3 separate regions of the Homo sapiens genome follow, and all the other regions are linked to region 1. Evidence: fine-mapped expression QTL. A gene starts in region 1. Each other region holds a variant in brackets. All regions are shown on one strand. Distances are from middle to middle. Region 1 holds the start of KRT73 (keratin 73). Region 2 overlaps KRT74 (keratin 74). Region 3 overlaps KRT2 (keratin 2).

What was found. PIP is the estimated chance that this variant, and not a neighbour inherited with it, causes the effect.
Region 2: its variant is fine-mapped to the expression of KRT73 in whole blood (TOPMed, PIP above 0.99).
Region 3: its variant is fine-mapped to the expression of KRT73 in unexposed skin (GTEx, PIP above 0.99).

The regions. Positions count from the first base shown.
Region 1 is chr12:52,615,143-52,623,326 of GRCh38, forward strand. KRT73 (keratin 73) reads right to left here and starts at 3,417. Exons shown (of 9, transcript NM_175068.3): 1 at 2,936-3,417; 2 at 1,024-1,238; 3 at 137-197. The coding sequence starts at 3,382. It overlaps KRT73-AS1 (KRT73 antisense RNA 1), which reads left to right. Exons shown (of 3, transcript NR_126005.1): 3 at 1-163.
Region 2 is chr12:52,557,681-52,565,864 of GRCh38, forward strand. KRT74 (keratin 74) reads right to left here. Exons shown (of 9, transcript NM_175053.4): 9 at 8,102-8,184. Among named protein-coding and RNA genes, the nearest start is that of KRT71, 8.6 kb to the left of the region's middle. The variant T/G (reference allele first, on the strand shown) is at 4,291.
Region 3 is chr12:52,637,876-52,646,043 of GRCh38, forward strand. KRT2 (keratin 2) reads right to left here. Exons shown (of 9, transcript NM_000423.3): 8 at 7,660-7,694; 9 at 6,683-7,559. The coding sequence ends at 7,144. Among named protein-coding and RNA genes, the nearest start is that of KRT2, 10 kb to the right of the region's middle. The variant G/A (reference allele first, on the strand shown) is at 4,431.

The DNA.
Region 1 (8,184 bases):
CAGCAAGCCCTTCATCTCCTCCTTCAGCACTTTGGCTCCAGGCCCTTCTGCGGGGGGCTCAGACCTCAGCTGCTCCTCTCTCTTAGCCCAGCACCCACTGCTGGGGGACTGAAGGGAACCCATGCACCCTCCTCACCTTCTTAAGCACCACAAATTCATTCTCAGCAGTTGTGCGCTTGTTTATTTCTTCTTCATACCTGCAGGGAAAGCATCACAGGAAGCAGAGTGTGTGTCTGTGTGTGTGTGTATACGTTCTCATAGTGAAATGAGAAAAGAGATACCCATATTATATGCCTTTTAAGAGGTATTATTCTATACCTTTGCAAGTCCATCCCAACACACCAGGACTATTTGGCCAGAGTTGGAGGCCGGGTATGAAGTAACCTCCTCCTGAGCCTGGGTGGTTTGAGGTCTGATTTCCTCTGATGCCTGGGGAGTGAGTAGGTTCTTCCTCTTCCCACTCAGTATCTGAATCACAGAAGCATGCCAGCTACCCCTTTCAGCCATGATTCTTGTGTCAATCCTGCTGCCTGACAACCTACCAACAACTCCCCTCCATCCCTAGGCAGGGGTCCCAAGGAAGCCAGAACTATCTCCCAGGGGAGAAAGAAGGCACATGGCCCGTGTCCAGGACCGAAAGGCAATGAGAGAGGAAGCCCAACAGGAACTCCACCTCCTTCCCTGTGGCAGAGAGCAGCGGGTGGGTGGGGGGTGGTTCTTTGGAACTCAGGGGCACAGTGGTGAGCTTAGGAGCCAAGAGGCTGCGGCACACACAATACAGGCTCCCTTGAACAGGGAGCAGGAAGGAGCATGCCAAGGAGGGGATCACCTGCCAGGACAGCCCTGACGCTGCCCAAGAGGCTGGTTGTCCACTGTCTAGTCTGCCTCGTTGCCCATAGAAGGCTCTCATCTTGCTGGGACAGATGAACCCAATACCTCCAAGGCCAGAGGCAAACATCCCAGTGCCTGCTGGGAAAGCCTCACCCTGGGAGGCAGACCAGCCTGGAGTGGCGTCCTGCTCACCTCTTCTTGTAGTCCTCCACCACTTCGCGCACGCTCCTCAGCTCCGAGTCCAGCCTCACCCTGTCCCCAGACAGCGTCTCCAGCTGCTTCCGCAGGTTGCTGATGTAGCCCTCAAGGATGGGCTCCAGGTTATTCTTGCAGTTGTTCAGGTCCAGCTGCTGTAGCAGCTCCCACTTGGTCTCCAGCACCTGGTTCTGCTGCTCCAGGAACCGCACCTGGAACCCATGCCACACATACTTAAGCAATGTGGAGAGGGGATGTGAGAATTCCCTTCCTGGACAGGAACTGTGTTTTCTTATGCTACATTAGCTTTAAAAATGAGCCTCAGCCCTTAAAAACTGCCACCCATGCCACTCACACCCCCACTCCTTACCTAGGGTCCTTTATCTGACTGAAGTTCTCACTCTGAGGCAGCCCTTAAGGTTGGGAGGGGCACCAATGTCTTCATTTCCCTCTCAAACTATCAAGATCTAGATCTCCTGTCTCCTCTGCACTTATCCAAACCTGCCTGGACCGATGTCCATGTTCAGTCCAGGCCACCTCTCCAAGGCAGCCCCTTAGACACAAGCTGGCCTGTGCTAGCCTTCACACTGTCAGGCCTTCTGCTCGGGGTCTGGTGGCCCGTGCTCTGCCTAGTCTCTCCCTCCTTGTGCGTGGGCTCTCCCAGCCCAGCCAGAGGCAGATGTTCAGCTTATCTGGGGTCTCCGGCCCTCCTAAGTTGCTTTCATGTCTGAATCTCTACTATCTCAATCACAGCATTGTCCCAGCAGCAGAACAAGCATTCTCAAGTTGCAACCTACAAATATATCATTCCCTTGCTTAAAACCCTCAGGTGGTTCCACATCACCCTCAGGGTCAAGTCCATATTCCTTATCACACTCTTCATAATGTGCCCAGCCCTCCTGGCTTCCTTCTTTACTCATACAGTGATGTCGTAAACCGAAGGTCTCCCATTCCCCAGACAAGTTCTACCATGCTGCACGTGCTGTCTCCCTAGATTGCCTTTTCCCCACCTCCATCTGAAAACTCCTACTCATGCCTCACCACCCTACCTCACTGTCGCTCCGGGTGAGCTTCCCCTGCTCCTCTAAGCTTAGGAAGTCTCTGCTTCCCAATACCTTCCTACCACTTTGTTCCTCAGTGATTCTCAAACCTGAGTGTACATCAGCATCACCTGGAGAGCTTGTTAAAATGCAGGGTGCTGGGCCCTGCTGCAGAGTCTCTGATTCAGTTGCTCTGGGGTGGAGCCTGAGAGTGTGCATTCTAACAAGCGTCCAGGTGACGTTGCTGCTGCTGGTTCCAGGGCCACCTTTGAGAACCACTGCTCTAGGGCACCGTGACCTCCAGCTGCCTTGCCTCATAGGCTGTGTGTGTTACGGACTGAGTCTGAGCTTTCAGGGGACACAGGAGGAACAGCTGGGTCGCATGGCAGTCTAGATGCCCCAGGCTGTCAAGGGCATCTCCTTCGCCTAGCTTCTAAGTCTCACAGGCTGTCACTCTGCTACTTCTCAACTCAGAGACCGCTCTCATTGCTTCCTGGACACCTTCCTGGGCTAGGCTGCTGGCTCCTCTCACCCCTCCAACCCTGGTCCCTTGCCTCTGATGTCCAGGCTTTGTCCAGTTCCTCCCTGGGCTATGTCTGCATCCTGGGGAGGTGTCCTGCCTTCGTCTGCTTCAGACAGGGAGCACCCCAAGGACAATGAAGGCGGGGGAAGGAAGGGGCTCTACGGCATGAGCAAGCCTTATGGGCCCAGCACCTGGGGAGCTTTCAAGTTGTTTACCTGGTGTCTGATTTTGCTGGGAGAAAATGATTTCTTGCTCTCAGGCAAATTGAACCACAAATTAGGGCAGTGGCTCCCTCCTGAGTCCTTAAAAGGGGAGCCCAAGATCAGCTTTCTCCAGAAAGACCCACCTTGTCAATGAAGGAGGCGAACTTGTTGTTCAGCACCTTGATCTGCTCCCGCTCCTGGGCACGCACTTTCTGGATTTCAGGGTCCAGCTCCACGTTCAGGGGTGCCAGGAGGCTCTTGTTGATGGTGACCTGATGGATACCCCCGGGCGGGCACAACGACGGACACACGGACCCCAAGGCCACACTGCCAAACATGCTGCCAGCAAAGCCACTGGCCCGGCCCCGGCCAAATCCATAGCCTCCTGCCCACCCACTGCCACTGGCCACATTGAAAGAGATGCTCCGGGCACCCCCCAGGCTGTAAAGGCTCCGACTGCTGAAGCCTCCACTGAGCCCTTTGCCCCCTGCTCGGTAGGAGGATGAGCTGCCCCCTGAGAGCACAGCGGAGCAGCCGCTGAAGCCCCCCTTGGCAGCAGCTCCCGACTTGTAGGTGAATTGGCGGCTCATGGTGGGGAGGCCAGAAAGTGGGGATAAGATGCTGACCCTTAGCTGAGATGCAGTTCACCAGCCTGTGATCCTGGGCTCCCACTTTATAGGACTCAAGAGGGAGCCATGGGCCTAATTTGTGGGTTCAGTTTGCCTGGAAGCAAGAAATCATTTTCTCCCAGCAAAATCAGACACCAGGTAAATGACTTGAAAACTCCCAAAGTGCTAGTCTTGCAAGTCTTGCTCATGTAATTTGAGTTTTATCTAATGAACATGTGTAATTAGCATGGGCACATTATCCATAGAAAGATCTTAGGTGGGAGGTTTGTCGCAGTCTCAATTGCTGTTCCCCAGGGAGTGGTGGGGCCTGGGATTGTAGGGGTACAGAGGGGAGACCTTTAATTGACAGTGTCATCTGTTAGAAATCTCACAACCATGCCAGCATCAGATGGGCTGCTTCAGGGACCCTGGCTGAGCTGCTTTTATGTGGTTAAGAAGAGGCTGCTGCTGCCTGGCTTCCCAGAGTTCCTGGAGACAGGTTTGATGGCTGGCCAGGGCCATAGGAGAGGAGCACACTGGGAATCCAGGACCAGCCTCTGGCTGCCAGCCCCCTGCTGTGCCCTCCCAGGCAGCTCTCCTGCTCCTCTGTGCCAGCCGGGCTGCCCTGCTCACCTTCCTTTGCACACACTGACTTCTTTTTCCCTTTACCATCCCACTACCCTGACTCTTGACCTTGAAATTATGGTCATTGCACCATTCACGATGGCTGACACTGGTGCAGCACTTTACAGTGTAACAGAGCTCCTCACACAAGAAGCTCATTTAATCCACTTAGTCTGCATGGAGGGGAATGGTGATGATCCACATTACACAAATGGGGAAACCAAGGTTCAGATAATTGAGGATGTCATTCCTTTAGCAAACATTTAGTGAGTCCTTTCTTTGTGTGAATCCCAGAGAATGAAAATGCCCCCAAAAAGCACAGGCCCCAGCCTTGAGGACTCCCTTGGCTGGTCTTCTGACTCCACATTCAGAGCTATGCCCGCCTTATTCATTCGTCCATCTATCCGTCCAACCAGCCAGCCAGCCATCTACTTGTTCATTCATTTATCCATTCGTTTAACAGACTTCTCTTGAGGGCTGACTCTCTCCCAGGTACTGTGCTAGGCTCTTGGGTCCCGAATTATGAAGACCAAACCTAGCTCACAATTTTGGAGATGGGGAGGTAGGGGAAGACATTTGAATTTCATGGATCCTTGACATTGCCAAAGTATGTGACCCAAGAGTTTCCCAAATCCCAAATCCCAAATATATCCATAGTATAGAATTTCCTCCATAAAAACACAAGTATTTCACTAGCTGGAGTACTTGAATGAACAGTTGGCCCATCCTTCTTTTCTATTTCTGTATAGAGGTTATGATATGCCTCTAAAATTGTTGTACTAAGCAATTGCCAAATTCAACCTCCCCTCTGTTTTATACAATATGGTTGTTTTCTAGTTAAGAATAATCATTTTCTTTGATGTCTTCAATTTCACTAAAGGCAATGCCACTTGGAAGTCCTTTAATCTTTTTTAGCTAACATGAAGTTCTATTCCTTTTTTTCTTTTTTTTTTTTTTTTTTTTTGAGATGGCGTTTCACTCTTCTTGCCCAGGCTGGAGTGCAATAGCATGATCTCGGCTCATCGCAACCTCCACTTCCTGGGTTCAAGGGATTCTCCTGCCTCAGCCTCCTGAGTAGCTGGGATGCAACACCACGCCCGGCTAATTTTGTATTTCTAGTAGAAATGGGGTTTCTCCATATTGGTCAGGCTGGTCTCGGTCTCCCAACCTCAGGTGATCTGCCCGCCTCAGTCTCTCGAAGTGCTGGGATTACAGGCGTGAGCCACCGCACCTGACCCAAAGTTTCTATTCCTTTGTAAGTTTCTTTGTAAGGCACAAAGAAGACCAACAAAACTGCATTGTGATGAGAATGCTTAGTATTCCAGCCAGAATCACTCCCTAATTGGCTCATTTCAGCACACCAGCACTGGGGTGGAGGTGATTCAGGCCTGCATCTCAGCAAAACTACAAATTGCTGCATGTCACAGGCCCTGAGATAACCCCCAATGGCATTTATGCTGTGAATGCCAACTCTGCAGTATGGCGTGGATGTGCTTACGAGCAAACAGCCCCTCTCCTTATGGTTTTCACTTCCCCTCCCCTCCCTGGCCTTCTCATCTTGTGAACCTGCCACAGAGGCACTTCCGGAAACCTTCTCTGATCACTTTCCTAATCCAATCACACCTCTCTTCCCAGCCTCCCACATGTTGTTTGTTGTCCAAACAACAGCATCTATTATGTCAATTGTCTCTTCTAATTTGATGTCTCTACCTGTGTTCAGGAGGTATGTCAATCTTTCCTAACGGCCAGAAATTTTCCTGAGGACAAGATCCAGGTCCTATCCTCCCTTTGGTCCTCTCTACTCACTTCCCAGAACTCCAGTGGCAAAGGACTCTCAGGCAGTCATGGACTAGGCTAAAAAACTCTTAGGTGCCCTTTGAAATCATTCTCCCTAAGAACAGTATCCCTAGCACCTGTCATTGAAATGCCTCTAAGTGGGTTTTCACACAGTGAGCTCCTTATATTTCACATCCCTTATATTGCCCTCACCAGGGGAAACTCAATGCCAGATGAACCCAATTACCAAGTCAGCCCCACTTCCCACAGTGGGGCTGTCCTGCCATTAGCCTCTGCCCAGACACTAGGGCAAGAGTTTCTGATGGTTTCAGAAAAGAGAGAAAGAAAGGGGGGGGGGGGGAGAGAGAAAGAGAGAGAGAGACAGGCAGGAAATCAACTTTCTGTCACCCCCAGGGGCAATCAAATAAATATTGTGAAATCAGTATTCCCTATGTGGATATTCCACAACTAGAAAGATGAAGTAGACATACTTTTCCCTTCTTCACAAACATAAGAAGACTCTGAAGCGTAGAGAAGAAGGCACACCAACAGGGACCTCAGGACCCAGTGAAAGACATGATGATTATTTCTCTAGGTTTTCTATTTGTCTCCTATATTCCAGACTTGGGGCAGAAGAAGGCAGGAATCTGGAAAGGCTCAGATTTTTAAAGATTAAACAAAAGCTTGATCTCTGTAGCCACATCATCAGGAAAGGGGCAGCCTAGCAAGATGGAAAACTTACAGAGAATAATCACTCTATTCCATCTCAACACACAGAAAATACTATGGTTTCACCTACACCCACATCAGCAAAAGCTGAGTGTGAGGCCTAGACCTTCACACTCACCAGGCTATAATGAGGTGCCCCAACTGCCCCCTCCCCCAGCAGTTAGATGGAATCAGGGAAGTCCAAGAAAGAAGCCGGGATTCCATCCCCACCAGGAGGTAACAAGTGCCTGACCCACTTGGTACCAGTGGAGACCATGTGGGGAGCCCAGACTTCCACCCTCACCTGGCAATAACAAGGTAGCATCCACACCCTTTCCCCTGCAAGGACAATGTCAGAAGAAGGCAGCCAAAACAGAAGATTTAAACAATATCCAGAATCTCATAATAGTACCAAAATGTCCAAATGTTTATTTAAAAAATCACTCATTGTGCCAAGAACAAGGAAGTCCTCAAATTGAATGAAAAAAAAAGACGATTGATAGATGCCAATACTTAGATGACAAAGTTGTTAAAATTATCTGACAAAGATTTCAAAGCAGCCACAATAAACATGCTTAAATGAACAACTAAGAACATGCTAAATAGATGACAAATTAGACAGTTTCAACAAAGAAATTTAAAAACCAGAAGAACTAAATGAAAGTTTTATTTATTTTTTATTTTTTTATAAACATCCCCAACTTGCTTGTTTTATTGGAGAAGAGGACATGGAATAAACATCTGGGATGTGAGTCTGGGAAGAACCCCCTCTCCTCCCCATATATGCCTACTGCCCCAAACTAAAAATAACCAACTCTGGGAGAGCAGCTGAGACAGCAACTGGGGGCAGAAGAAGGAGACACGGAACTGGAGGGCAGTGGTGAAGAGACCACACGTGTGCTGGGAGGGCCCAGAGGCAGTGACAGCATGAACAGTGCAAGTACAAGTCTCTGTGCCTTCCCTGGGGTTGTGTATAAATATATAGAAATGAGGCCTTCTATCCCATTTCTCTCCCTTCCGCTCCTTGCTGCCTGCCACAGTCCCAGCTCCTCTTTCCACACGAGGGCGAAGGGAAGTGGAGGATGAACAAGTCATCACTGAATTGCGATCAGACCCACATCCATCAGCTTCTGGATCTTTAAATGGAAGTTTTAGAACTAAGAAATATAATAATCAAAATAAAAAACTCAATGGATACACGTAACAGGAGAATAAAAGGCCAGAGGAAAGAATCAGTGAACTGGAAGAGAGGACAATAAAAATTACCCAATCTGAATAATAAAGAGAACTGAACAACAGACTGAAGAAGAATAAAATGAACCAAGTCTCAGGATCAGGGAGACTCTAACAAAAGATCTAACAGTCAAGTCACTGGGGTTCAGAAGGAAAGGAAAAGAAGTATTGCTGAAAAATAACTCAAAGAAATAAGGAATAAAAATTCCCCAAATTTGGCAAAAGACGTAAACCCACAGATTCAGGAAGCTGAGCAAACCCTAAACAGAATAAACCCAAAGAAATTCATACCTAGACATATTATAGTCAGAATTCTGAAAACTACAAATAAAAACCTGAAAGCAGCTAAAGAGAAACAATGCTTTACCTTTAGGGAAAAAACAATTTGAAGGACAGAAGATTTCTCATCATAAACTATGGAGGCTAGCAGGGAGTGGCATAGT
Region 2 (8,184 bases), 57 kb before region 1:
GGAGGAAGGAGAGTTGGGGACCTCCCACAGGAAGGGAGGGCCTAGGTGGGGCTCCTGAGGTGCCTGTGTTTTTCGGGAGGGAAAAAAGGAGAGACTGAAGGAAACCAGGACAGGGCCACAGCTCACTAGGGGGACTAAACCCCCAATCCCCCCAGTCCCGCTTTAACTGAGATCTGGGAAGATTTAGGGGTGGGAGGAGCCAGCACCCCTGCTTGGGGAGCCCTCTGGCCTGGTGGGGAGGCAGGATCTGAGCTGCCCGTCTGGCTCTGTTTTTCTTTCATGCCCTCCATGGGAGGGGTCTAGCTTTCCACATGAGAATTGAATTCTGAGCAATGTTTGGGCAGGCGTGGACATCTCTGGGCCAGTTATACCCATCTGTGAAACAGTCGGGGGAATGCGTCATATCAGAGGATCAAACCCCTAAGATACCAGGAACATCTGGCTTGGACATTCAAGAAAAAAATTAAATGGCATGTTACATTACATTTGTGTGGCTCTTGGTTTTATAGCCACATGTTTTATTTGGCTTACATGTATAATTTGTAAGTGTCTTTGTATTGTTGTTTCTGTGTCTGTGATCATGACCAGTTTGACACATTTGTGTGTGAACCCATGGCTCTAATTTGTATCTTGCTCTTTCCTCTCAGCACTCTTGGGTCGGATAAGTCTGGAGAGAGAAGACCTCCAAGAGCAGGGCAAGACAACCGAGTACAATATAAGAGGGTAGTTGCTGGGTGAGAGGAAAGGGGAATGCATAGATGTGGGGACACTAAACCTACAAGGGCTGCCTGGAGGATGGAGTTTGGATCCCAGTCTCTTAAGGGAAGAAGGCTTGGATGGACAGGCATGGAGGAATGAGGAAAACTGCCCTGGGTGGCAGAAGGCAGGTCATTTGTGAGGAAAAGACCCACCAGGCTGGAGCAATCATGAATAAAGGACGACTTTGCGGGGGGGGGACTCTGGATGCCAGGCTGTGCACATAATGGGGAGCCATTGAGGGCTACTGAGCCAGGGAGGGCATGAGCAATCCATGTTTGAGGCAGCAGAATCCAGGTGCTATGTGGACAGGGTTGGTGGGGGTGGAGAGAGGCTGGAGGCACCGAGAGAGGGGCAGGTGGTTCTCTGAGCAAATAATTGTCTCCAGAATTAGAGAGAATGAGCTGAGCTATTTGGATGACATCAGCCCAGGTCCTGCCAGCCCTCCTCAGCAGATGAACCCAGGAAATGAGCATGTCATCTATGGATCCCCCAGAAGCCCCCCTCCTGGCACCCCCTCATCTTTCAGTGGTTTCAGATAGGCAGGGTTTTCAGCCCCAGCCAGCCGGATGGAGCGCAGTGCCGGGGGCCTGGCCACAACCCACCATTCATTGGGGGGCAGGACAGCTGGTCAGCATTTTTGCAGCTGCCAAGGCTGAGGGTGTGCCCACCCCAGAGGAGCTGGGATATAAAGGATAGGAAGGCTGTCCTTCCAGGCATGGCTCCCCTCCCATTTTGCCATATTTCTGACAGAGAGGGTCATCTGGGGCTGCCCCTCTCCTCATTTCCTCCTCACTCAGCTCCGTGGCTGGGAGCACCTCCTTTGAGCCATGCTGCAGCCCCACGCCAAGCCTCTAGCGAAGTGCATGGACTTGAGACTCTGAGGACCCAGGTCCCAGTCTTGCCTTGGCCACTCATGAGCCGTGTGACTGTGGGCAGGTCTCTTACCTTCCTAAGCCTCTGTTTTCACATCTCTAAAAGAGGGGGTGCCAACACCTGCTCCACCTACTCCCCAAGGTGGTTGGGAGGCACCTTGTAAATAAGAATAATGGTGACAATGATAATAATAGCAGTGGTTAACACATATACAATGTGAGTGCTGTGAGGCATCCTTCTAAGCGCTTCACATATATTAATTCATTTAATTCTCACAACAGCCCTATGAGGTAGGTGCCATTATTGTCCCCACTTTACAGATGAAGATGCTGAGACACAGGAAGTTAGGCAGCTTACTCAAGAGAGTACTCAACCAGGATTTTTTTTTTTGAGATGGAGTCTCACTCTGTCACCCAGGCTGGAGTGCAGTGGCACGATCTCAGTTCACTGCAACCTCTGCCTCCAAGGTTCAAGCAATTCTCCTGCCTCAGCCTCCCGAGTAGCTGGGATTACAGGTGTGGGCCACCACACCGGGCTAATTTTTGTACTTTTAGAAGAGACAGGGTTTCACCACGTTGGCCAGGCTGGTCTCAAACTCCTGACCTCAAGTGATCCACCCACCTTGGCCTCCCAAAGTGCTGGGATTACAAGTGTGAACCACCAAGCTCAGCACTCAACCAGGATTTGAGCCAAGGTTCAAATACAGGCATGCTGGCTATAGTCTGTGCCCTTAGCCTCCACACCACCCTGGCTTTCTTGAGTACAAATGTCTAGTGCCCCTGCGTGTCCTATTCCCAGGTGAGCATGCCCACCTCTAACCCTCACCAGCTCTGGTCTCTGCTCTCTCCTGTCCCTCCAACACTTGAACCACAGTGTGAAAAGCTGAGCTCATCACTTTCTGTCCCTAATATACCCTCCCACCCCATCAGTGCCCACGCCCTCACTCACCCAGGTGCTCCGCACTCTCAAGAAGTCACCTGCCATCTCTTAAGGCAGTTGCTCTGCATCTATCACCACGGCATGGCCCAGGCTGCCCCTCATCCTCTCCCCTCTGGAATTCTGGCAGCAGCCTCTTGGGTGGTCCTCCTGCCAGCCCACCCTATAAGCCTCTGGTTTCCAGGATTGACATTTCATACACTCCTGTCTTCCTGTCACAACCCTCCAGCCAGCCACATCTGACCCCTCAGTCCCCTTTTCAGCCTTCTTTGCTCTTTTGGAGAAAATAGATGTGATTTCAGGACCTGGGTGAGGATGGGGTTGGGGATGCTTGTGAGGCCCTGACATGTTTCTTACGGGCAGCTTCCTTTTTCCTGATGTCATGCTCTGGGCTATTCTCCCAGCCTCCTGCCTACCAGGCAGGACATAGCTACTCCAAGAAGCCTCCCCTAAGCCCTTCCGAATTCCCCTGGTTTCCACCCCTTCCCTGTCAGGGTCAGGCTGCAGCTTTCTCCTGCTGCTCAGGTTCTGGGCGCATCCCTCCACCCCAAAATGACCAAAGGCTCCAGGGCTTAATGCATGAACTGTGAGCACTGCATGTCTTACCAGCTGACAGACATGTTCCAAGGCATATCAGAAGATGTGTGTGCACATCTGTATGTGAATGGCTGGGAGCAGAACAGGTGTCCAGCCATTATGAACATGGCTGTCCTGGTTGTCCATGGCTGACATCTCTGATTGGTTAGTGCCTGCTTGTACCAGCTGTTAAATGTTTTGCATCTTCCATAGACATCAGCTTTGTGAGCCTGCAGCCTCATGTCTATGCATGCGTACATGGGTTTCTGATGACATTGCACCTGATAATTGCTCCCATCTTCTATTAGCTGTTGCTTTCAGACCCCTGAGTCTCCATTATTCTCCATTAGTGGTTTCTAACAGGGAGCTGATTGTCCCTTTTTCATATATTTTCAATATATTCTTTTTCAATAATAGCCATGACGGGAGGGAGCAATGCAGTGACTCCCAGCTGGTGACCAAGTGAGGGAATCAAATTCATTCATTCATTCATTCAACAGCTCTGAGACCATGAAAGCAGGAGAAGTCATGACAGTTTAGACCTGAAAGAACATCCCTTCCCCAGGGCAGGAGGATGGCCAAGGTGACTTTTCAAGGTCACAGAGGATGGATTTCAATGAGACTTTCTCTACCAATGAACACAGATTACTCAGTTAAAGCCTCCTGCTACACTGAGTTTGGAACCTAGAGAGAATGGTTAGAAAAATCAGAAAATGGGAAGGTCAGAGGCAGAGGGAGAGGCATAGGAAGAAGCTGCAGGAAAGGGTGGATGAGGTCCCAGGACACAGTGCACAGACACTGATTGCCTTGTTCTTTTGCATTCAGTGATCCCATTTGACACTTACTAAGCAGCCTCTCTGTGCCAAGCGTTTACCACATACAGGGATAGAGGAAGACACCAGCCTGCCTTTGAGGACTTCTCAGTCCAGCAGATAGGTCTGCCATTGCAGAGCCTTGTAGGTTTCATTAAATCCCAGGTGGAGAGAAGATTCCAGTAGCAATTGGGTTTTGTGCTCACTTCAACTAATGAACCAAGATACAGTGAGTTTGGGAACTTAAGCAAGATTTTGGGTGTCCACTTAAAATCTTAATCCAAGTCACTGTGCAGAGGCCATGACCCTGACAGAGAAAAAGAAATATTGCAGT[T/G]TTTTGGCCTCAGATGCTTCAACTCAACAGGCATCAGCAAGAGCTATGAGAGCCACTTGAGGGCACTGAGTTGCTCTTCATAACCAAAGTCTGAGACTCAGGTGGTTAGTTAAGCAAGCACTTAATTAGCCGAGAGAGAGCCAGTGGTTGCCCTCAGCTGGGTGTAGCGGCCAAGTGTCAGAGACATGGTCAGCTCTTGGCTATCAGAAGTCCAGCTCCCCCAGGCTTGCCTTGGCCAGTCAAATGAGGGTAAGTAGTGTCTGTCCCCCTGCTGGTCATGGACAACTCTGTCTTTATGCCAGGTTGCTATTTGCCACACGGTAGGGAAGGCAGAGAGCAAAGTCCAGGGATACAGTTTCTCTGACCTTTTCCCTGCTGCACTCCCAAATTTTATTTTATTTTTTATTGGGGTAAGATTCACATAACATAAAATTAACTATTTAAAGTGAACAATTCAGTGGCATTTAGTATGTTCACAATGTTGTGCAACCATAACCTCAATCTAGTTCTAAAACATTGTCATTACCCCGAAAGAAAGCCCTGTGCCTACTAGCAGTCACCCCCATTTCCCCTTCCCCAACTCCTGCAACCACCAATTTGCTTTCCATCTGTATGAATTTACCTATTCTAGACCTTTCATATAAATGAAATTATATAATGTGTGGCTTTTTTTGTTTGGCTTCTTTCTCTTAGCATAATGTTTTTGAGATTCATCCACATTGTAGCACATATCACTGAGTCATTCCTTTTTATGGCTGAATGATATTCCACTGAAAGTATATACCACAGTTTTTTTTGTTTTTTTTTTTTTTCATTCATTGATGGACATTTGAGCTGTTTCCACCTTTGGCTATGGTGAATAGTGCTGCTGTGAATATGCATGTACATGTGTTTGTTTGAGAAACCTGGTTTTAATTTTTTTTTTTTTTTAATGAGACAGGGTCTTGTTCTGCCACCCAGGCTGAAGTGCAGTGGCACAATCACTGCTCACTGCAGCCTTGAACTCCCGGGCCCAAGTGGTCCTCCCAGCTCAGCCTCCCAAGTAGCTGGCACCACAGGCATGCATCACCATACCTAGCTTTTTTTTTCTTTAAGAGACAGGGTCTCCCTATCTCCCTTGCCCTGGGTTGCCCAAGGACAACCTCCCTTGCCCAGGTTGGTCTCAAACTCCTGGGTTCAAGCCGCCCCCCAGCCTTTGCCTCCAAAAGTGCTGGGATTACAGGGATGAGCCACTGGGCTCAGCCATGTTTTCAATTATTTTGGCTTTCTATCTAGGAGTGGAATTGCTGGGTCATATGGCAAATCTGTTTAACTCCTTGAGGAATTGCCAAACTTTTCCACAGTGGCTGAACCAGTTTACATTTCCAACAGTAATGTATGAATGTTCAAATTTCTCCATAATCTCACCACATTCATTATTTTCTGTTATTTTTATTATAAATCATCCTAGTGAGTATAAACTGGTGCCTAGTTATGATTTTGGTTTACATTTCCCTGATGAATAATTATGTTGAGCATCTTTTCCTGTGCTTCTTGGCCATTGTGTATCTTCTAAAGAAAGTTTATTAAAATTACTTGCTCATTTTTTAACTGAGTTGTTTGTTTTTTTTATTGTTGAGTTGCAAGAGTACTTTATATATTCTGGATACTAGACCCTTATCAGCTCTATGATTTTCCAATATTTTCTTTCATTTGGCAGGTTGTCTTTTCACTTTCTTGATAATGTCCCTTACTGTAAAGAAGTTTTTTAACTTTGAGGAAGTCCAATTTATCTAGTTTCTCTTGTGTTGCTTATGCTTTTGATGTCATATCTAAGAATTCATTGCCAAATCAAGGTCACAAAGATTTCCCTCTACATTTTTTCTAAGAGTTTTATGGTTTTAGCTCTTATATTTAGGTTGTTGATTCATTTTGATTAATTTTTGTATATGATGTAAAATAGAGATTCAACCTCATTCTCTGGCATGTGGATACCTCGCTGTCTCAGCACCATTTGTTGAAGAAGCTATTCTTTCCCTTATTGAATGGTCTTGGTACCCGTGTCAAAATGGCCATAACTGTAAATAATTGAAATTAACAATCACCTCTGGTCCTGCCTTCATGATTTCTCCTCTTGGGCTTCAGGGGACTCTGAGTCCAAAAGCAAGAGCACAGTCACTCCTGTGCACCTCTCAGCATCTTCATAATCCCAGATGGCAGAGAATCTCTCCATTTCTCAGGTGGATAAGCTGCAGCCAGAGAGGCTGCTCCTTCTGCCCACCTCAGCACTCTAGTAGAGGACACACTGTATCACATCTGCTTAGCCCTTCATCCCTGCATCCAGAGCCACGTTTGCGTGCAGCCATCACAGCCCAACAGCACCAGCTCAGGTGTGCCCAGTTGTCAGGGGCATGCTGCACAGCAGCCTTGAAAGAAGTGATTTCACGGAGGCTCATGTATTAATACTTCTCCAAATGCTATTTCAGGTTGTGGGTCTCATTCCCTCTCTCACCTCAGGCCCTCTTACTGGGTCCCTCACTGGGAATGTGGTCTTTTGGGAAAGACAGAGCATCAATGCTAGGAAGGGCCTTAAGGGTATCTGGTGCAAAGGCTCTTAACCGGTGGTTCATGACCCAGGGAATCCATGGATGGGCTGTGGGGATCTGTGAACCTCTGGACATGCAGTAGACCCTGTCCACATTTCAGGGGAAAGATCCATGGCTTTCATCAGCTCTCAAAATGTTCATGACTTACAAGGTTAAGAACCACTGTGTGTAACAGGTGACTGGTTAGTGGTAGAGCTAGAATGGAGCCTCCCACTCCCAGGGCACTAGTTCAGTATCCACAGTGGCAGCAGTGGTGACATCAGAGGGAGACATTTGGGCAGAAAGCCCAACACACTCTTGGGCTCTTGTGTTTCCCACGGTTTACTGCACCCTGGCACACACAGAAGAGGACCTCCTTAATACATGAAAGCCACAGGGAGGTGAATGGAGGCCACTACTTAGGCCAGAGTCCCCATCCTCCCAAGGCCTGTCCCCATTATCTTGAGGCCTGTAGAGGTGAACATCTTTGGGCACACCCATGACACAAGACAAATTTGAAAGCTGCTTAGACAGCTAGACTCTGCCGGCCACAGCTGAGGGACTTAGAAATCCACCCAGCCCCACTGCAGATTAAGCATCTCTAATCCAAAAGTCTGAAATCCAAAGTGCTCCAAAACTTTTGGAGCATTTTATTTAAAATTTGTACAAAATTATCTTTAGCCTACGCAGAAGGTATATATGAAACATAAATGAAGTTCATGTTTTGATTTGGGTTCCATCCCCGAAGTATCTCATTATGCACATGCAAACATTTCAAAATCCAAAGTCAGGAATGTTTCTGGTCCCAAGAATTTTGGATAAGGTATACCCAATCTGTATTGACTTTGGAAAATCTGAGATCTCCCACCCCCTACTAAATAAGCACATGAAAGCCTGTGTCCAAACTACTATGTTGCTGTGATTTAAATTCCCTCTCCAGGAGCCCATGTGTCCATCTTTCTGGTTATTTAATTAAACTCTCCTCCTCTTCCAGGAAGCCTTCCTTGCTTAGCCTCTCTATTCCAGTCCCTTACTAGCATTGCTGCCTTAGGCTGCCCTTCCCTGATTTACATGAGTGTGTATCTGTCTCTTCCAGCAGCCTGAGATTGCCTCCAGAGCAGCCTCATCTGAGTTGGCCTGCAGCTTCCCAGCAAGAGTCCTGCACGCTTGCTGGGGAGAAATGGAGGGTGGCACATCATCACTAGAGGGTGGAACATTTGGAAAGATTAACAGACTGACAGAAGCATACCTCTGACAACACTCAAGGACAACTTAATGAATATACAGCAGAAATTCAGAGTCTTTAATTCAAACAAAAGAGGAAATAGAT
Region 3 (8,168 bases), 23 kb after region 1:
CCGAGGCAGACAGATCACGAAATCAAGAGATCGAGACCATCCTGGCCAATATGATGAAACCTCTTCTCTAATAAAAATACAAAAATTAGCTGGGCATGGTGGCACATGCCTGTAGTCCCAGTTACTCAAGAAGCTGAAGTAAGAGAATCACTTGAACCTGGGAGGCGGAGGTTGCAGTGAGCCAAGATTGTGCCACTGTACTCCAGCATGACAACAGAGCAAGACTTCATCTCAAAAAAAATAAATAAATAATAATAATAATAATAATAATATAGCATGACCAAATGGAGTTTATTCCAGGAATACAAGATTAATTTAACATTTGAAAATTAATCAATGAAATTCACTATATTAACAGAATGAGGGAGAAAAGTTATATGATCATCTGAATGTTGAAAAGTATTTGAAAAAAATCAATGTTCACTCAAGATAAAAACACCCAGTACACTGGGAGTATAGGGAAACTTCCTGAACTTGCCCATCTAACCAAACAAACAAATTTTAAAAATGCTTACATTTAATATTATAGACAATGGTGAAGAAAAATAAACGTTTCCCTCCAAGATTAGGGAAAAGGGAAGGATGGCAACTCTTGCTGCCCCCATTCAATATTGCTCTGAAGATCCTAGCCAGACCAATGAGGGGAAATAAACAATAGCAAACAGTTTGGAGAGGAGAAGTCAAAATCATCTTTATTCATAGACAACATAATTATGTACATACAGAATCCTAAGGAATCTACAAAATAACTAGTAGAAGTGACAAATGAATTTAGCATGCTCACAAGAAACAAGGCCAGTTTTTAAAACTGTGCTTCCATATATGAGCAAGGAGCAAATAACAAATTAAAATTTTTAAATACCACTTGTAATAGCATGAAAACATGAAATACTTAGAGATAAATTTAACAAAACATATGTAAGACCTGTACGCTGAAAACTGTGACACACTGATGAGAAAAATTAAAGAAGACCTAAAGCAATGGAGAGAGGTACTATGTTCATAGACTGAAAGACTCAAGATACTTAAAATGCCAATTCTCCCCAAACTGACCTATTGATTCAACATCATTTCAATTAAAACCCAGCAGTATTTCCTGATAGAAACTTACAAGCTGATACTAAACTTTATACTCAAATTCAAAAATTCAATCCCATATAATTTTTTAAAAGAATAAGAAAATCAGAGGTATTATACTAGCTTATTTCAAGACTGATTCAAGCCACCATATCAATACTGTATGTTAGAAGTGTTTCACAGATACATTAATCAACAGAATAAAGAATCCAAAAACAGACCCACACATATGTCTCCATTGATATTTGACAAAGTTGCCAAGGTAGTTCAACAAGTAAACAATAGTCTTTTGAACAACTGGTGCCCAAACAACTGGATATTTACTTGGGGGAATAAAATGAACTTGGACCCTTACCTTAGACCATACCCCAATGGCCACTTAAAATGGGGTATAGACAATGTAAACACTAGAATTATAAAACTTCTAGGATAAAAGTTTGTATTGTAGGAGAAAATGTTTGTGACCATTAGGTAAGCAAAGATTTCTTAAGACACCAAAAGTCCAAACTATAAAGAAAATTTGATAAATTAGAATTAATCAATATTAGAAAATTCTGCTGCTTGTAAGATGCCATTAAGAAAATGACAAGAAAATCCACACACTGAGTGAAAATATTGACAATACATATACCTGACAAATGACTGTTATCCAGAGTATATAAAGAACTCCTGCAACTATGTATGTCAAACTGCCCAATAAAAACTTTCACAAGATTTGGACAGACCTTTCCTAAAACATGTACAAACGCCCAATAAGAACCAAAAAAAGACACTGCACATCACAAGTCATCAGGAAAATGCCATTAAAACTACAAAGAGATAACATGCACACCCTGTAGAATGAAAAAGACTGGCAATGCCCAGTGTTGGAGAGGAGGTACATCAACCCTAAGAAATCCTAGAATAGGCAAAACCAGTCAGTGGTATCGACAAGGAGATCAAAAGTTGGCTGGGGGCATAGGGTAACTCATTGGAGTAGTGGAAATCTTCTATATAAGTATTGTGATAGAGGTTATAAGGATGTATACATTTGTTTAAAAATATTGAGGTATATGCTTAAAATGTAATACAATGCATTTTCTTATTTATAAGTGAATCCTCATTAAAGTTGACTTTAAAATAAACAGCATGCACATTCGAATGTGATCTGTAGTAAATTTTAATTTACTGGAGTTCAACAATGCATTAGATTAACTCAGCGTTCTGCACTTTGAACTACAGCTTCCCCTGCCATCTATCTTTCAATGGAAAGTAATCAGAAATTTCAAGTCTAATTAGTTACAAATATCATTACCATTTACACCCATCTATCTGTATAAATCAAGATTTTCTCAATACAGAAATATGTTGACTAATAAGATACCTTTGGATTTTCTACATATGCAATCACATCATATATTAATAAATCAGTTTTATTTCTTTCTTCCTATCTGTAGGATTTTATTTATTTTTCTTGCATTATTGCACTATTTAGGAATCCCAGTACGATGCTGAATAGGAGTAGTGACAGCAAATACGCTTGCTTGTTCCCAAGAAATGCTTGTGGGAAAAGCATTGACTTTCACCATTAAGTATGTTAGCCATGGGTTTTTACAGATGCCCTTTATCAGGCTAACGAAGTTCCCTTCTACTCCTAGTTTAAGAATCTGTTGTTGTTGTTGTTGTTTTTGTTTGTTTGTTTGTTTTTACCATGGAGGGTGTTGAATTTTGTCAAATGTTTTGTATCTATTGATACAGTCTTATGTTTTTTTCTTCTATGTCAATATGGTGAATACATTAATTCTTTGAATGTTGAGCAAGCTTTTTATTTCTGGGATACATTTTAAACATATACCTCACTATTTTTAAACAATATTTTTAAACACATGGTCATGATGTATTATCCTTTTTATATCTTTCTAGATTGAATTTGCTCATATCTTGCTGATAATTTTTGAATATATATATATATATATATATATATATATATATATATATCCATGAGGGATTTGTTCTTTAGTTTCTTCCATTAATGCTGGCCTTATAAAACAAGATGGAAGGTGTTTCTTCTTCCATCTTCTGAAACAGTTCGTGCAGAATTGTTATTACTCTTTAATTAATCCCACCTATCTGCCAGTGCCTGGATATAAAGTTATCTCATCCATGAGGTCTTCTCCGGTCCCAAAATACTGCCTGTAACTTACAATAATAATAATAATGTAACCTACAGTACTGCATGCTTATGATGGCACAGGTCCTACAGAATAAACATTTATCATTGATTTCAGTGTGTAAACCTCCAGCAATCCTCTGAGGAAGCTGTTGTTGCTACCTGTTTACAAATGAGTAAAGAAAGGCTCAGAGTTGTTAAATAACTTGCCCAGGGTCACACATTCTTTTATCTGATCATCAACTTTTCATTTAGTGCCTACTAAATTCCAAGGTGCCAGCAACTGAGCCCACCCCAGAGCCCGCTCCCTTAGCATGTCCATCAGTGCTTTCCAAACCATGGCCCTTGTGTCACCAGCATCAGAATCACCTAGGAGGTTGTTAAAAATGCAGATTTCTAGACTCCTCTGTAGTGGAAACTCAGGGAGAAGGAGGGGATGCTGGAACAAAGAATATGTATTTTTAGTAAGGGCCGCTTAATGAAATTAATGCACACTACTACATTCTGCCTTATGTTAATAGCTGTTTGCAAATTTCTCATTCTTCCCCTACTAGACCATAAATCCCTGACAGGACGCACTGTCTTATAAGTCTTGATACGCCCACGTAGCCACATGCACAACCTTGCCCACAGTCATTGTCCAACAGGCATTTACTGAACTAGAATGAAAACCACTTTGAGCTTCACATGCTCACACCTATTCACAAAGGGTCTCTCTGGATATCCTGACAGTGTCCCAAATCCCCTGTTGGGCTGAAAGGCTTTAGGAGTAAGCACTGGCTGACCCGGTAGCACAGACAGGGTTCTTTTCATCAGAGCTGGAAGGATCTGTAGAAACAATCTTGGCCACTGAAAGTCCTTAAAGTGAGGCAGAAATTGAGCCAAGAGAGGAGAAAGGACTTGCCCAGTGTCACGCAACAGTTCCCACAAAGATGAGGATCAGCATTGAAGTCTCCTCACTCCCAGGGCACTCCTTCCCCACTTCACAGCAAGAAAAGGAGGCAGGAGTGTTCCATTTAGGTGGGCTTCCTGGAGGAGGTGAGCTGTCCTGAAGGAGGTGAAATGTCCAAAGGAATTTCCTTTCAAATGACAGGAAAGAAAGAATTTGGTGAGGAAGAGAAAAAGGGTTTATTTGAATTCATACTAAAACTCACAGGCAGAGAAAGGGAGGGAACCACAAGAGGGAGGATGTCCCAAATATTCT[G/A]CAACATCATCAGAACGGAAATGTTTAACCCAGTTCCCTATGGAAATCGAGCTCGTAAAACCCTTCTGCCTGTGCCTGTCTCCTTTTTGAAGCCCAGGACCTGACAAGTCAATTACCAAATTTGGTGGAGGAGCAGCAGAGGGCCCTGGTGGGAGGGTGTGGCCCAGATTCTGGGCTACTCTACACTTCGGAGGGAAAGGAGGGTCCCTCTCCAGAGGTAGCCCCTCTCTCCAATACCTGCTTAGAGCTTGATTTCTGTCACGCCTCAGGCCTGGGTCCCTCTGAGTTAATGTACAAGGCTAATTTTACTACTGGAGTCCAGCAAGAAAGTAGCATATATATGATCTGGAAACCAGAAGGGCTGTGTCTCAGGTGGGGAAGGGATGGGGAACTGGAAACGATAGAAGGAGCTAGAGGTTCAGACCACTGAAAGTCTCAAGAATTAAGGCCGGGTGCAGTGGCTCACGCCTGTGATCCCAGCACTTTGGAAGGCTGAGGCAGGCAGATCACTTGAGGTCAGGAATTCGAGACCAGCCTGGGCAACATGGTAAAACGCCGTCTCTACCAAAAATACAAAAATTAGATAGGCATGGTGGTGCATGTCTGTAATCCCAGCTACTCGGGAGGCTGAGGCATGAGAATCACTTGAGCCGGGAGGCGGAGTTTGCAGTGAGCTGAGATCATGCCACTGCACTCCAGCCTGGGCAACAGAGTGAGACTCCATCTCAAAAAAAAAAAAAATAGAATTAAGGCTCCCCTGGGAATAAATCTGCCACCTTACCTGCCTCACCTCTTTTCCCCTCAGAAAGTTATTAGAATGGATTGCTATTCCCAAAGCCTTTTAAAAAATGAATAAATTGGGAGTGGGAGACCTGGTTTCTGTGTCCACCCTGGGCCTTACCTTTTTCCTCACCTAAGTGAAAAGTTCAAATACACTGATTACCAAAGCTCCTGTCCAGCCTCAAATGTCTGGGACCAAGTCCCTGTTAAAGGTTGTGTTCATGTCTACACTATGTACATACCCGAAAACAGCCAGCTCCTCACACCACTTCTTCCCAACCTGCACCCTCTCCCCACAGACCTCTCCCCACGACTGAGGCCTGGGTGGTTCTCAGGGACCTTCTCTGATCAGCGGATCACTTTAGAATGCTCAGCCTGGAGTCTTGCCACCTTGCCACCTGCAGCCTTCAGAGCTGTTCCTGCAGCACCCTCATACCTGGGTCCTGGCTGGTCTGGAGGCAAGTGAATGCATCTGTTCTCTATTAGAGCCGTCCCTGCAACCTCTGGGAACAGGAAGACGGTCACAGACTCAACTAAGGACTCTCCAAGGTTTTAAAGCTGGGGTGGAGTGGGAGAAAAAAGGACCCTCCAGGAGTGGTTCTGAGTGGCTTTAAGCCACAGCTACTATAACCAAACGCCACATACAGAAAGCTAAGCTGACCTAGCCTGAGCCACCAACTCCCATTTGGGCAACTCTGGCCTGTCTAACACCAACCCCAAGCATGCCCAATCCCACCTGCCCAACCATTCCTGAACTCCCTGGAAGCCCTGCTCAGGTGACATGGCCTTCCTGAGGAAGGGGCTGAAGGCATCTTCACACCCACAGGAGAAGGCCAACCTGATGGCAACATCCATGCGACAGGCCCCGGGGGCTGCGGTGAGAGAGGAGAGAAGGGCTTGTTTGCTGAGTGTGGTGGGACTCCGCTGACAGGAGGGGTGTCCTGTGAAAATAGAAGTGGCTGTTTTGGAGGCCACTTTAGAGTCCTCCAGACTCTTCCCAGGTATCCTCCTCCAGGCTTGCTCAGAGCCCCCGCAGAGACAGAGGCCAGGACCTACATCAGGCTGAGGAAGGTCTGCCTTGGAAGCTCGGAGCTTGGAAACTCACCACGATGGTGCCAGGGGCTCAGCGGTTTTGCCCTGAGGAGAAGTGATCCCGGGCCAAAGCCTTTGTGGAAAAGGGAGAGGGCAGTCTGTGGGAAATGCTCAGGAAGAATGGGTTTTTCTAGAAAAGAGACTCTTCCACAAATCTACCTGTCCACCTCCCGGCAATGCCATGGCCCTCAAGTCTGGTAAATACTTTCTGAGAACCACACACCCATCCCCAGGCTCCCATTCATCCAGAGGCTGGCGCCTGGGCTTCCCTCAGGGAGGCACGCTCCTCACCCAGGAGCCCCTCCTTAATGCCCAAACCTCCCTTGTCCATGGCTGCCCACTTCCACCAAGGTTTGACATCACGCAGACAGCACATGATATGAATTGCAAATGAGGTTTATTATGAAGACCCCCAGACCACAGCACTTCCGAAAGCAGAGTGGACAAGAGGAGCTATATACACAGAAACACATTTCCCCCCAGCACTGCCAGGCTTAGAGATGAAATCCCTGGATGGGCCTGGGTCCTCAACAGAATACACATCTGGAAAATGGGCAATGCAAAGAGGCATGGTGGGGGCGGGAATGGGCATGGCTAGAAGCACAAACCTAGACAGCACAGATTCCGCCCCAGAACACAGAGGCGTCACTGGCTCTAACTAACTGGTTTGGAGAGAAGATCTTTCAAAAACTGTATGTGGACATTCTTTTCCCTCAAAGTGCCATCAGAGATAAATGACAAAAATTTAACTTGCTGCCAGTTAGAGGTACAGAGACAGGCTTCTACATTCTGGAGTGGGAGAGTCTGGGTTGGGAGAGTCGGTGGTGGTGGGGGCTCATCTTTATCTAAAAGAGAAGGTCACGCTGGAACCAAAAGCTTCACCTGAGCTACCCTTTACAGAGCTAGAACCCCCACCTCCAGAGCCATATCCTCCTCCAGAGCTGGAGCCTCCTCTAGAGCCACCTCCAGAGCTGTGTTTTCCACCTCCAGAGCCATATCCTCCTCCAGAGATGGACCCTCCCTTAGAGCCACCACCAGATCCGTATCTTCCTCCAGAACCACCGCCAGAGCCATATCCTCCTCCAGAGATAGAACCTCCTCCTCCACTACCGCCTCTGGAGCCAGACTGTCGGCCTCCAGAGCCATAACTGCTGCTTCCAGAGCTGTATCCTCCTCCGGAACTGGACCCTCTACCTCCAGAACCTCCAAAGGCAGCCTTGGATGCCACATTTGATGAAATGGTGCTGCTTGTCACAGCTGCAGAGAGAGGTGGTGTTACCACAGAGATTATGACTGCCTCTCCCTGCCTCCACCTGACACAACACCCCATGGAACAGGACCACACCCCATTACTTACACACAGTCACATTGCTGCTGAGGTCTCCAGACATCCTGTAAGGGAGAGAGAAAAAACAAGTTGTGGTGGAACACTTAGGTTCTGTATGCATGTTGTTTTACCACTTCCACCCGCAAATGTGCAGTTTAGCCTCTCTAAGCAGCCACCAGGGCTTACACACCCCACTTTCTTCTATGCTGCCAGGTCACACAATGACGACAGACCCCCTTCCATTTATGCACAACCTTGCATGTCAATCCCTCTCAATTTTTGCTCTGATAAAAAATGAACAGTTGCGTGGTTGATCCAAGGTCACTGAAAAGCAAATTCACTTCCTACTTTGCAACCCATTTGTGTATTTAAATCCATCTTGGAGAGTCTGTTATTCAGAATCCATGCCACATCAGAAATTATACAATGAGGCTGCCTGTGAACATTCAGTTCAGAAAGAACTGTGACTCTGTAGAGCCTCCCCATTCCTCTCTTCTTCCCACCCTCTTCAGCTTCAACTGAAAACTTTCCCACTTCCT